Linked DNA regions of Homo sapiens: region 1 is linked to region 2. Evidence: fine-mapped expression QTL. A gene starts in region 2. The other region holds a variant in brackets. All regions are shown on one strand. Distances are between the middles of the regions.

Region 1 (5,376 bases), 29 kb after region 2:
CTAAGGTAAGATAATAATACTGGTATCAACAACCTTGGGCCAAATGTGAAGATGTTAAATTCATTTTGCACACCTATTCTTCAGGATTAAAAAATATTATCCTGATAAATACAGTAAACCCATTGTAAACAAAACTTTTCATGATGCAGTAACCTTACCCATTACTCCCTTACCTCCTATCTTAAATAATGTTTGAGTGTATTCTTCCCTTTGCCATTAAAAGTTCCATTACTTCTGCCCACAAACCAGCAAGTCCTCACCAATCAAGAATCAGCTGCGATCTCATCATTTTCTTTTTGTGTATTCTAAAACTCAGATGTTTTCTCTCCTCTGGCCTACTGTGGCATGCCCTTCCCTTTCACTAATATCTTGGACATTGATATGGTTTGGCTGTATCCCCACCCAAATCTCATCTTGAATTCCCACGTGTTGTGGGAGGGACCTGGTGGGAGGTAATTGAATCATGGGGCCAGGCCTTTCTCGGGCTGTTCTTGTGATAGTGAGTAAGTCTCACGAGATCTGATGGTTTTGAAAAACGGGAGTCTCCTTGCAAAAGCTCTCTCTTCTCTTGAGTGCCTTTAATCTTCCACCATGACTTGTGGCCTCCCCAGCCATGTGGAACTGCAAGTTCATTAAACCTCTTTCTTTTGTAAATTGCCCAGTCTCCAGTATGTCTTTATCAGCAGTGTGAAAACGAACTAATACAGATGTATAAACATTGACCCATCCTCTTTAACTTCCATATACCCTTTTTAAATTGCAGAAAAATCATTCAATTAGTGGAAAAATTGCTCAAGTAAATTTTATCATCTTTCACCCAGGCCCGGTGATTTCCTATTCAGCAGCAATTTCACATATATATATATACTATATATATATATATAGTATATATATATGTATTATGTATATATAATTATATACTATATATGTAAAATTTTAAAATCAATGTTTTCATACTTTTTAATAATACATGCTTATCCTCATTGTAGATAAATTGGGAAATACATAAATGTTTTAGAAAGAAAAAAATACTTGTATGTAATTCTATCACCCAAAGATGTAACATTTTGGTGGATTTCCTTCAAGTGTTTTTTTTCTATGTACATTTTCATATTGTGATTACACTGTGTGTGTGTATATATATATTATATATATATATGATTTTGTGTCTTGCTTTCTTATAACCGAAGTCTTTATTCAAGTTATAAAACCCTACATATAACATTTTAAGGCTCCGTAGGTTTTGTTTTGTTTTGAGACGGAGACTCGCTCTGTTGCCCAGGCCAGAGTGCAGTGTCACGATCTCAGCTCATTGAAGCCTCTACCTCTCGGGCTCAAGTGATTTTCCTGCTTCAGCCTCCCAAGTAGCTGGAACTATAGGCCCACACCACCACGCCCAGCTAACTTGTTTTTGTATTTTTAGTGGAGACGGGGTTTCGCCATGTTGGCCAGGCTGGTCTTGAACTTCTGACCTCGGGTGATCTGCCCGCCTCAGCCTCCCAAAGTGCTGGGATTACAGGCGTGAGCCACCACGCCCGGCCCATAGTAGTTTATCATATAAATATGCCAGTTTATTCCCTGCCTCCATTACTGGACATTTATAGTTATGATTGTTTTAATTTTATGAACAAGCCCACAGTGAATATTGTGAGGCATATGGCTCTTTTGTTATGTAATATTTCTTTGGAATAAACTCCCAGAAGTAAAATTGCTGGATTAAAAGGTGTGTTATTAGTCAGAACTCTCTTGGTTGTGACTGAAGGAACTCTGACATAAGAAAAAAAGTGGGGGTTAATTACTGATTCATAGAAGCAAACTTTGGCAAAGACAAGAAGGGAGCTGGCTTTAGGGAGCTGGGACCAGAGGCTGGAATTTTAACCTCCTGACTTTCTCCTTGTCTCTTGAATTTATCTTAGACATAAATGAAAATAGAGGTAACTCAAAGCGTCTAACCCACAGTGACAATTGCTGCTCTGTTTTTAGAGCCGGGATTTTGTTCGTGGACTTGCCTTGCCTGGTGGTTGAACTTTGCAGCCCCTTCCTCCTCCGGGCAGCTTCTCTCAGTGGCAGCTGTGTTCCCCATGGTTTGTCCTGGATGTCTCCCTTGTGCCATCCTTGCAAGCCCGCGGCCAGCGCCTCCACCCACGCTCCGGCCTTGCTCCCACTCCCACCGCTCTGCCACCTCCCACCTCAGCCTCCCACCTTGGTGTGGAGGGACCAGCGTCGAAGACAAAGGAATCTCTGACGAGAACCGGCCAGTCCGGGAGGGACGGCGGGGAAGGGGGTGCTGCTCTGGCGGAGCCCTCACTTCACTCGCTTCCCCTCGAGCGCCCCTCTAGGCTGGGGCCCGGCCGCTCTGGGCCTGCTCCTCCTCCCGCTCCTGTTGCGGGGCACCAGGTCAGACCCTACAGGGGGCTCCGCCAGGGGGAGGGGGAGAGGGGCTCCCTTCAAACTCGGCCCGGCCGCGGGGGTCCCGGGTGCCCTCTGCTGGGCTCCTTCCACGTCCTTGTCCCTCCTGAACTCCCGTTCCAGCCCTGCCCCCGCCCCGCAGTAGGGAACGGACTCGTTTCTGCCCCGCCCCGGGGTCCGGGCGCCCGCCCGGCGCTTCAGCTTCAGCAACGTCAAGGCCACGTTCCCTCCGCTCCAGCTCGAAAGACGGTGGCGCTGACTCTGCTCTGCGCGCCGCAGCTTCCTCCCGCTGCTCCGCCCAGCG[G/A]TTTCTGATCCCCTTTCGGCGCTGGGGACTCACACGCTGCGGCGACAGGAAAGCCCGCGCCCCCGGCCGCTTCCCGGAACGCCCTCGGGGACGGCTGAGTCACTTGGCGCCCGCCCGCGCGGCCACCGAGCCCAGAAGCGGGGAAAGCCCAGAAGCGGGGAAACCCCAGGGACAGCCGCCGGCCCTGGGGGCAGCCAGCGCTCCAGGCCGCCCAGCACCTCGGGCCCGGATGGGCTTCTCGCGCCCCAGGGCTGCGGCCACACCCCGCCGGCCCAGACCCCGCGGGTAGAGAAAGGAGGTGCAACCCTGAGAGCCAAGACGTTGGGCTTGGCTTTGCTTTGCGTTTCTTTCCTTTTTTCTTTTGTTTCTTTTCTTCTTCTTTTTTTTTTAACCACATCCAGGAAGAGGAGAAACCTGTCTCATGACAGGAAACGAAGAGGGAGGATGCATCCGAACTGAGGGACATTGTTTCAGTTGCCTCACCTGACATACTGTCTCACCTGAGAGAGGGAGGCCGAAGAGGCAGCCAATGGTGGCTGGAGCAAGCCCTGTCCTCGTTACCTGGGCTGTGGCTGAGCCCTGGGGCTCACCGGCTGTATGGCCCTGGGCAAGTCCTCGGAGCCTTAGGTTCTCTGCAAAATGGAGATGATGTTTAATAGAAAATGTTTCTATAACTTTTGTGGCTTACTTTTTGAAAAGCGAGGGAGGGACTTTTGTCCTTCCCTCCTCGCATCTCAGTCGCAGTGCTGGTTCACAATCAGGCTGTTAACGCGGTTTCCACATTTCCTGTCCTCCCCCTTCCCCTTTCCTGCTGGGAATAAGAAGGTGGGCCCCCAAGGAGACAGAGGGTACACTCGTAAATGAAAAAGAAAAGTCAGCACAAGGACCCTTTGCTGCGGAGATTTCTTTTTCCAGGTATCCTAAGTGGGGCTCTTGCCATCCCTGCCATCCCTGCTCTACACCGAAGGGGTGAAGTCCTGGGACTCTGTTATGCCCATCTGTATGTAATCCTAGGCAAGATTATTACAGTAGCGCTTTCCTCTTTTTAGAATATACCCTTGTCTAGCCCCTACCCCATCTTCAGGACAGTAAAGGTTCTCAACTCACTTCAAACCCTCCTAGCCGTCTAGAACAGTGGCTCACAACCGCAGACCCATAGGAAATGTAGGGCCATCTATGTAATAAATTTATCCGGATGTATTATAACAATTTTAAGGTTACACTTGTCCTTTCTTGAACAGGACAATTCTTTATTCTAAGACTATATGCTTCATAGTTTTAGTTATTTTGAATTGTCCATTCTGTTATGAAATACGATAGTTATTGTTGGTTGATGTCCTCTCTCAGAAAAATAAAAAATTAGCAGTCCTAGGTAGATCCCCCAAAATCTTTTAAACTTGATCTGTGAAATCCAAAAAGCTTGGGTACCATTGCTGTATTCCACATGTGGTTCACATCAAGGTTCCTTGTCCCTCCCAAGGAGATTTGTAGCTATTAAAAGAAACAAACAAACAAACATAAACAACAAAAACCCTTTCGAGAATCAGATCCTCAAAGAATGTTTAAGGATAGACGTGGAAAAACAAAGAGTGGGGAGAGGAGTCTTTCTCTACTCTCAACCCCTAGCCCTTAGTGTAGGTGAAGGCAGCACAGTTGTATCTATTCTAACTGGTATTTAGTATTGAGCATAACTTTTAATGGACGACTCCTTTTAGTAAAACAGAGAACCAATTTTGAATAAACCAAGGTCTCTTGGTCTCTCAGTTTGCAGATCAGCGGAATGGCTAAATGAAGGTGCTATACTTTACTTAAAAGGTGAAAATGTGTCATTTGGGTAAGCAATAAGCAGTACTCCTCATGTCAATAGTGGCATAGTGTGGACTTATATGATGCCGTCTTAAATTAGGCCTCATTGGTTAATGTTTATTGAACACTCTCAGTGTGTTTGGTGCTAATTAAAATATCTTCAAGTCACAGAATCACTGCCTTCTAGTAACTAGTGATGCAGCAAGCTGTAACTGTTGAATCATACCTACCTATATCAACACAGATACTACACATGCATATTCATCTTTTTTGGATGCTAAGATAAAATTTTGCTTAAAATTCTTACTTAGTTGTGTGGGAAGTAGGGGAAAGGAAGATTTTTAAATTTGAAATGGTTGTCCTAGGATAGGAAACCATCGCAGCTGTCATGCACATTAATATTTTAGAAACACATTCACATATCATCTCTGTTGATCTTCCCAAGACGCTGTGACTCTACAGGCTGATTTCAGAGATGTTGTTCCCCCTTTACAGGCAACATATTTTAGTGGCTTGCCCAAGGAGGCTTACCTAAGGCCACACTGCTGGGTCGGGAGTCTGCCCTGGGTCTGCCTCTTCCCACTCACACTGTTGCAGTCCTGTATTCTGGGAAGGCCTCTATGGGCCAGTCCCAGAGCCTTTGAACCAGGGGAGAAAGGGTGGAGGGGAAGCTAGCTTCTCCTAGTTCTGTATACCCAAGAATCCACCTGGTGGGGATGGCGGGGGTTGGGGGGGAAGGGGGGGACGGAAATGACTTAGCCTGAAGGCAGGCTGTTTGACAGCTAGGGCAAAACAGTGGCGAGAAGAAACTCAGGGAAAGGAGAGAGGAGCTACCAGTAATTTTCAAACTTCGCTTA
Region 2 (5,376 bases):
CCTGTTTTTCAACAAACTACAACTGCCGGGTTTGATGGTGATTATGGGGATTTTGTACATAGCTAAAGTTATACTATGAAGTATTTTTGAAGTATTTTGAGAATTACTTGTAAATTATCGTTTGCATGCTTAACTGATAGCCTTCATTATGAGAAAGACCATATTTAATAAAAATTGTATGTAATTTAAAAATTAATTCAGACTTGAATAAAGTCTGTTGATTGATTAATATTATTGTATCAATATAAACTTTCTAATTTTGATAACTATACTCTCATTGTATAAGATATTAATATTTGGGGAAGTTGGGTGAAAGGTATATGGGAATTCCTTGACTATTTTTTTGTAAATTTTTTTTTTTTTGAGACGGAGTCTCGCTCTGTCACCCAAGCTGGAGTGCAGTGGCACCATCTCGGCTCACTGCAAGCTCCGCCTCCCGGGTTCACACCATTCTCCTGCCTCAGCCTCCCGAGTAGCTGGGACTGCAGGCGCCCGACACCACCATGCCCGGCTAATTTTTTTGTATTTTTAGTAGAGACGGGGTTTCACCGCGTTAGCCATGATGGTCTCGATCTCCTGACCTCGTGATTGCCCGCCTCGGCCTCCGAAAGTGCTGGGATTACAGGCGTGAACCACTGCGCCCGGCCTGTAAATTATTTATAAGCTGGAATTACTTGAAAGTGAAACATTAAAAGGAAGTTTTGAAATATTTAAAAAGGTAATTAACAGGGCTTGGCAATTTCTCCATTATTTGCACTCAGAAAAGGGGCTCTTTCAGCCTCTCTCTTTTGCTGACAAGATGATGAAATCCACGTAAGTCAGATGAAAGAATGAATGCAAAAGTCCTTGCTGAAGTAAACTGCTAAGCAAATGCTAATAGTGATCATTATAGTCCCATATGGAGCTGCTTCTCTATAAATAAAGGGAGGAACAAGCCATTGTACCAAATACCTTATCAGATACTCTCCAAGCAGTTTACAAAATGCTTAGAAATTGCTGCCCTAAAAGTAGGACTGGGGAGCTATTGAAAGGTTTTCAGCAAGGCAGGCAGGCATATAACAACAGCAATCCTTCAAGATGACTCCTCAAGCTTTTAATACATAGGATGGAGGAAGTGGAGGAGATTGGACTCAACAAATCCCACTAGGAGTTACTTTAATAATTGAGGAGTGGATGGTCCTCACTGAGTGGGCCTGGAAAGGAATAAACCAAGCTGAGAGGCATGGTGAAGAGCTCATCGTCTGGGCGGGACTACCTTGCAGGTGGGAGAGGAAGGAGACAAATGAGTCTGTGGTTACTTGAAGACATTTCACCAAGATGACTGGGGCAAATGCTTCTCAGTGTCACTGAGAGATGGAAAATGAAAAACAGGAAAGACAATTCATAGAGGTTGGGCTGCAAACTCAAGTGGCAGCAGAGGCCAGGCAGGTGCAAAAGGGGGAAGACAGGCCGTGGGGTCTGCAAAACTGCAAGAGTCGTCTCTCTAAAGAGGGTGCCTCCAAGGGGCCTGCCACAACTCAGCATCAGCCGTCCTTGCCATATGGGAATGCACTTGTGGTGTAACTAGATCTTCCATTTTTTCAAGAGAAGCCAGAAATTCAGATTTTATGTGAAATCTCTTAACTTTTTAATGCTAGCTACTAATTTTAAAACGTGTTAAAGCATGGTGTCTGCCAGCCAAGTACATCTATGGGCCAGATCTGGCAGGGTGGCTATCAAGTTGTGACCTCTGACATAGAGAAAATGTCAAGGGTCAAAGTTCATAGACTGTTAAGGTTACATAGAGAGACAGTGACTGTAAAGGGATTCAGTACCTAAAATGCTACGGATGCAGCTTTGCCAGCAATCTGAGCTGTATGACATATGCCCCTATCCTTCAAGCCTGTATATGGATTTGAATTTATACAGGAAGTTTCATCTAATCCTCAAATGGTTAAATCACAAGAATTTGAGTGCTTTCTGTGTGCTGAGTACACAGAAGTTAAAGAATTTAAAATCTAACTGGAGAAGAAAAAAACATGCCCTCTTGAAACAACTTGAAACAAATTATGAAAGAACCTGGGAGACTGCTTTCTTCACATTTCATGTGTCAGAGGCATCTTAAATCCTGGTTTGTCCCCCCCAAATCACTTCCATTTAGAAAACTTTGCAGTAGTGTGTGTGTGTGTCTTGAATATGTAACCAGAAATCTGATTTCCTGGGCAGTGGTTACAAAGCTGCAGCCTCTCTTTGCCCAGGGGTATCTTTACCCCAGAGTGGGAGGGGAGTGAGCTGAGGTGGGGGTGCACGAACGCTGCAGAGGAGGTTGGGATGGGAGTGGCCGGCGTGAAGCCACTGCCTGTCAGGTTTCTCCGCTGGAGTCCCCTGTTTGTCTCTGTCATTACTCTTTAAGTATTTGCGTAGCAGACAGGCGGGCACCGAAATAGAAAGTGTCAAAGATACGATGACAATGAGGATAAAACCAGGGCAGAGGGTTCTGAAAGTCCCAACCAGCACGGTCCCCGCAGAATGCCAGCGCACCTCCTCCCGCCACTTCAAAGAGCCGGCTCGGCGGGGCAGGAAGCGGCGGCTGCGGCTGCGGGTCCTGCGAGAAGAGCGCGATTTCCTCCGGGGCTGCCCAGTTATCTCTGGAGTCGCAGAACTGCTCTCGGGAGAACGCGTTCTCTACCCCAACCCCGTGCTCCTCAACCCACCCACCTACTTCCTCTAGCTCCACACACTCACAAGCACCGAGCTGCCAAAAATTTCCACCCACCGCCCCCCTCCCTAGCTAACTTCCTTCCAGCATTTCCTGAGCTGGATGATCCTAGGATTTGTAAGACAGGAAAAAAAGGAAGGCGTGAGGGCGGGCAGCAGCGACAGGATGCTTGTTTTTCGCTCTACCAAAGTCGTCTGAAGGCGAGACAGCGGGCCCAGGGCGCAGGACCCACCGCAGCCCCCTGGGCAGTCTCCTCGCCCCGCGTCCGCGTCGTCTCCGGGGCACTTAGTAAGGGGTGGGGAGAGCTTGCCCTCCCTCTTAAGCTGAGGAGAAACACCCGAAGACACCGCAGGAGCCTGTGAAAGTCCCTAGGACTCCAAGTGAGGAAGTGACACTCCCAGGCGAGCCGGCCCGCGGCTGCCAGTCTGCACGGCCTCGGCACGGCGGCCCCGGAGCGGCGCGGGGTGGATCTCAGGCTCTGCCGGCCCGCGGCCCGCGGGGTCCATGCGCAGGGCCCCCAGCCCAAGTTCTTCCATCTTCCGATGCGGCCCCCCAGAGCCGCGGGGCAGCCGGTGATCTAGCCCGGGAGCCCATCTTACAGCGGTGCCAAGCAGAGGGGCGGCAGAGACGGAGGGGCAGCCTCTTTGGGACTAACTCATGAAGAACAAGGGTGCTAAGCAGAAGCTGAAACGAAAGGGAGCCGCCAGCGCGTTTGGCTGTGACCTGACGGAGTATCTGGAAAGCTCGGGACAGGATGGTAATGTGCCTTGGCCTTTCTCCCCCGCCCCCACCTTCTTTTTGTTTGAGGGAGAGACGGACTCTCTCGAGTTGTGATAGAGTCGGTTCACAAGTTAATGTATTCCAGGCCTGTGCGCTCATTGCACTTTTTTTTCTTTTTTTTTTTTAAAGAACATAAACGATTCTTAAGGTGCACAGCGCTGCTGTCCCGACGCGCAGAGGCTGCTGTGTCAGTCCTTCCGTTTGCCTCACACAAGCTGTTAATGGGTGGTACTGCCGCAAGTTTACCGGGCCACCTCAGGGGATGGGGGTGGAAGCTGCAGAGGTCCCAATCCTAAACTTGGCACGTTGGAAGGGAGGGAGGAGGGGTGGACATGTGGGATGGTGATCAGTGGTCTTGCCTGGGTACAAAATCATGACCGCCTTAGCTGTCCCTCCTGGGCTCTCCAATTTCGTCTGCTCACATCTTTTTTTATTAATGTGTTAGAAGGCAGTTGCGGGTGGGGGGTGGGGGAGGATCCTGGCTGGGGGAGTGGTTGCACAAACATTTCTGAATTTCTGAGCTGATGCCAAATATATAGTACCTCCACCCCCTTTCCACAACCCCCTCCCCGCCCTGCAAGACCTTTTCCCTCCTCTTGGCTTTCAGATTAACATTTGGTGTGTCAGACAAGAAGAGTGTTGTAAAAAGGTCAGAGGGCCTCCATTTTTAAATAGTTTAGGGTAAGTAGAGAAAAGGAAAACTTCTCTGTTTTCAAGGTCAGATGGGGGTAGGGGGGAGTTGGGGATGGGGGAATCCAGCGGAGACAATTTAAACATTTGTTGGGGAAGGGGGAAAGAAAACACCATCTAGATTACAATAACAGCGTTTGAGCTTAGAAGTGTTTAATCATAGGAAAGTTGGAAAATTGAGCATTAAATGACTCCTTTTGTAAGGTTGACTGGTTTTGCACTTACCCTTGACAAAAAGGCCTTGTCTTCAGAAGCTTCAGCGAGAGGAAAATAGCCTACTATATAGGCCATGTGTTTATACATAGATAGATACAACAAAGGGGAAAACTAAGGGCTGTGTAACCGTGCGGAATAATTCTGCCTCCAGGAAAATAATCTCAAAACCTATTTGATTAGTCCATATCGAATATGCATTTCAAAAACAGTGCAATGCTTTTGTTTCACTTCTGTGTTTTGGGAGACTCAGCACCACCTAGTAATTTGCAGTGGTGTGATATTCCTGTGGTATTCTAGAGTTCAGTCTGCTGTGTCATTAGGACAAATAGCTTAGGATTTTAGAGCTTGGAGAACCACAGGTTTCAAAACTGACTCTTTTGAAATTGATGCATAACTTAACACTTCATTGAATCCTCACCAACCATCTGGAGAGGTAGATTTGAGATAAAAATCACTTGGTTTGAGTTTTTTTGAGTGTGAGAAAACTCCAAGTATGCCTCTTAACCACTATCGTCAGAAGTTTACAATGAAAGGTTCCTCTTCACCTATTTTTGCAGGGGCCTTCAAGTTAACCTCCAGGTACACTAGGAATGCTCCTGGGATGCCACCTTTCACCATGCGGGTGTTATTCTGGCCCCTCCCTCAAATCTGTGAGAGTTGCATAGGGGTGCTTGCCAGCCCTGTTCGTTCTTACAAACTAATAGATTATAGGATGAGCCAGAACCCCAGGGTTCTATGAAGATATGTCAAAGGCAGCTTTAGGCAGCTGTTCTTTCACCTGCTTTATATTTTGGGCTTCTGCATATGTTTCATTTAGACAAAAAAAAACAGAGACTACTGCTTAAAAGAATGGCAAACCAGTACCCCGGGTTCCCCACCCTGGGGAGGGGGAAAAGAAGCCCAGAGGGGTAAATTGGCCTGCCTGAGGTTGTACAGCTAATCATGAAGGATCGGAGGGCCCTCCCTGGCCTGTTAGGTTCCTCTGCCCTCCC

The links. PIP is the estimated chance that this variant, and not a neighbour inherited with it, causes the effect.
Region 1: its variant is fine-mapped to the expression of ARHGAP31 in whole blood (INTERVAL, PIP above 0.99). The same link has a PIP of 0.9 or more in blood mononuclear cells and monocytes.

Annotation. Positions count from the first base shown.
Region 1 is chr3:119,320,412-119,325,787 of GRCh38, forward strand. The region is part of intron 1 of ARHGAP31 (Rho GTPase activating protein 31); the gene reads left to right. ARHGAP31-AS1 (ARHGAP31 antisense RNA 1) reads right to left here and starts at 2,349. Exons shown (of 2, transcript NR_046748.1): 1 at 2,203-2,349. RefSeq lists enhancers at 2,020-2,877, 2,878-3,734 and silencers at 2,297-2,656, 2,707-3,056. The variant G/A (reference allele first, on the strand shown) is at 2,714.
Region 2 is chr3:119,291,550-119,296,925 of GRCh38, forward strand. ARHGAP31 (Rho GTPase activating protein 31) reads left to right here and starts at 2,834. Exons shown (of 12, transcript NM_020754.4): 1 at 2,834-3,455. The coding sequence starts at 3,356. RefSeq lists an enhancer at 2,257-2,306 and a silencer at 3,147-3,266.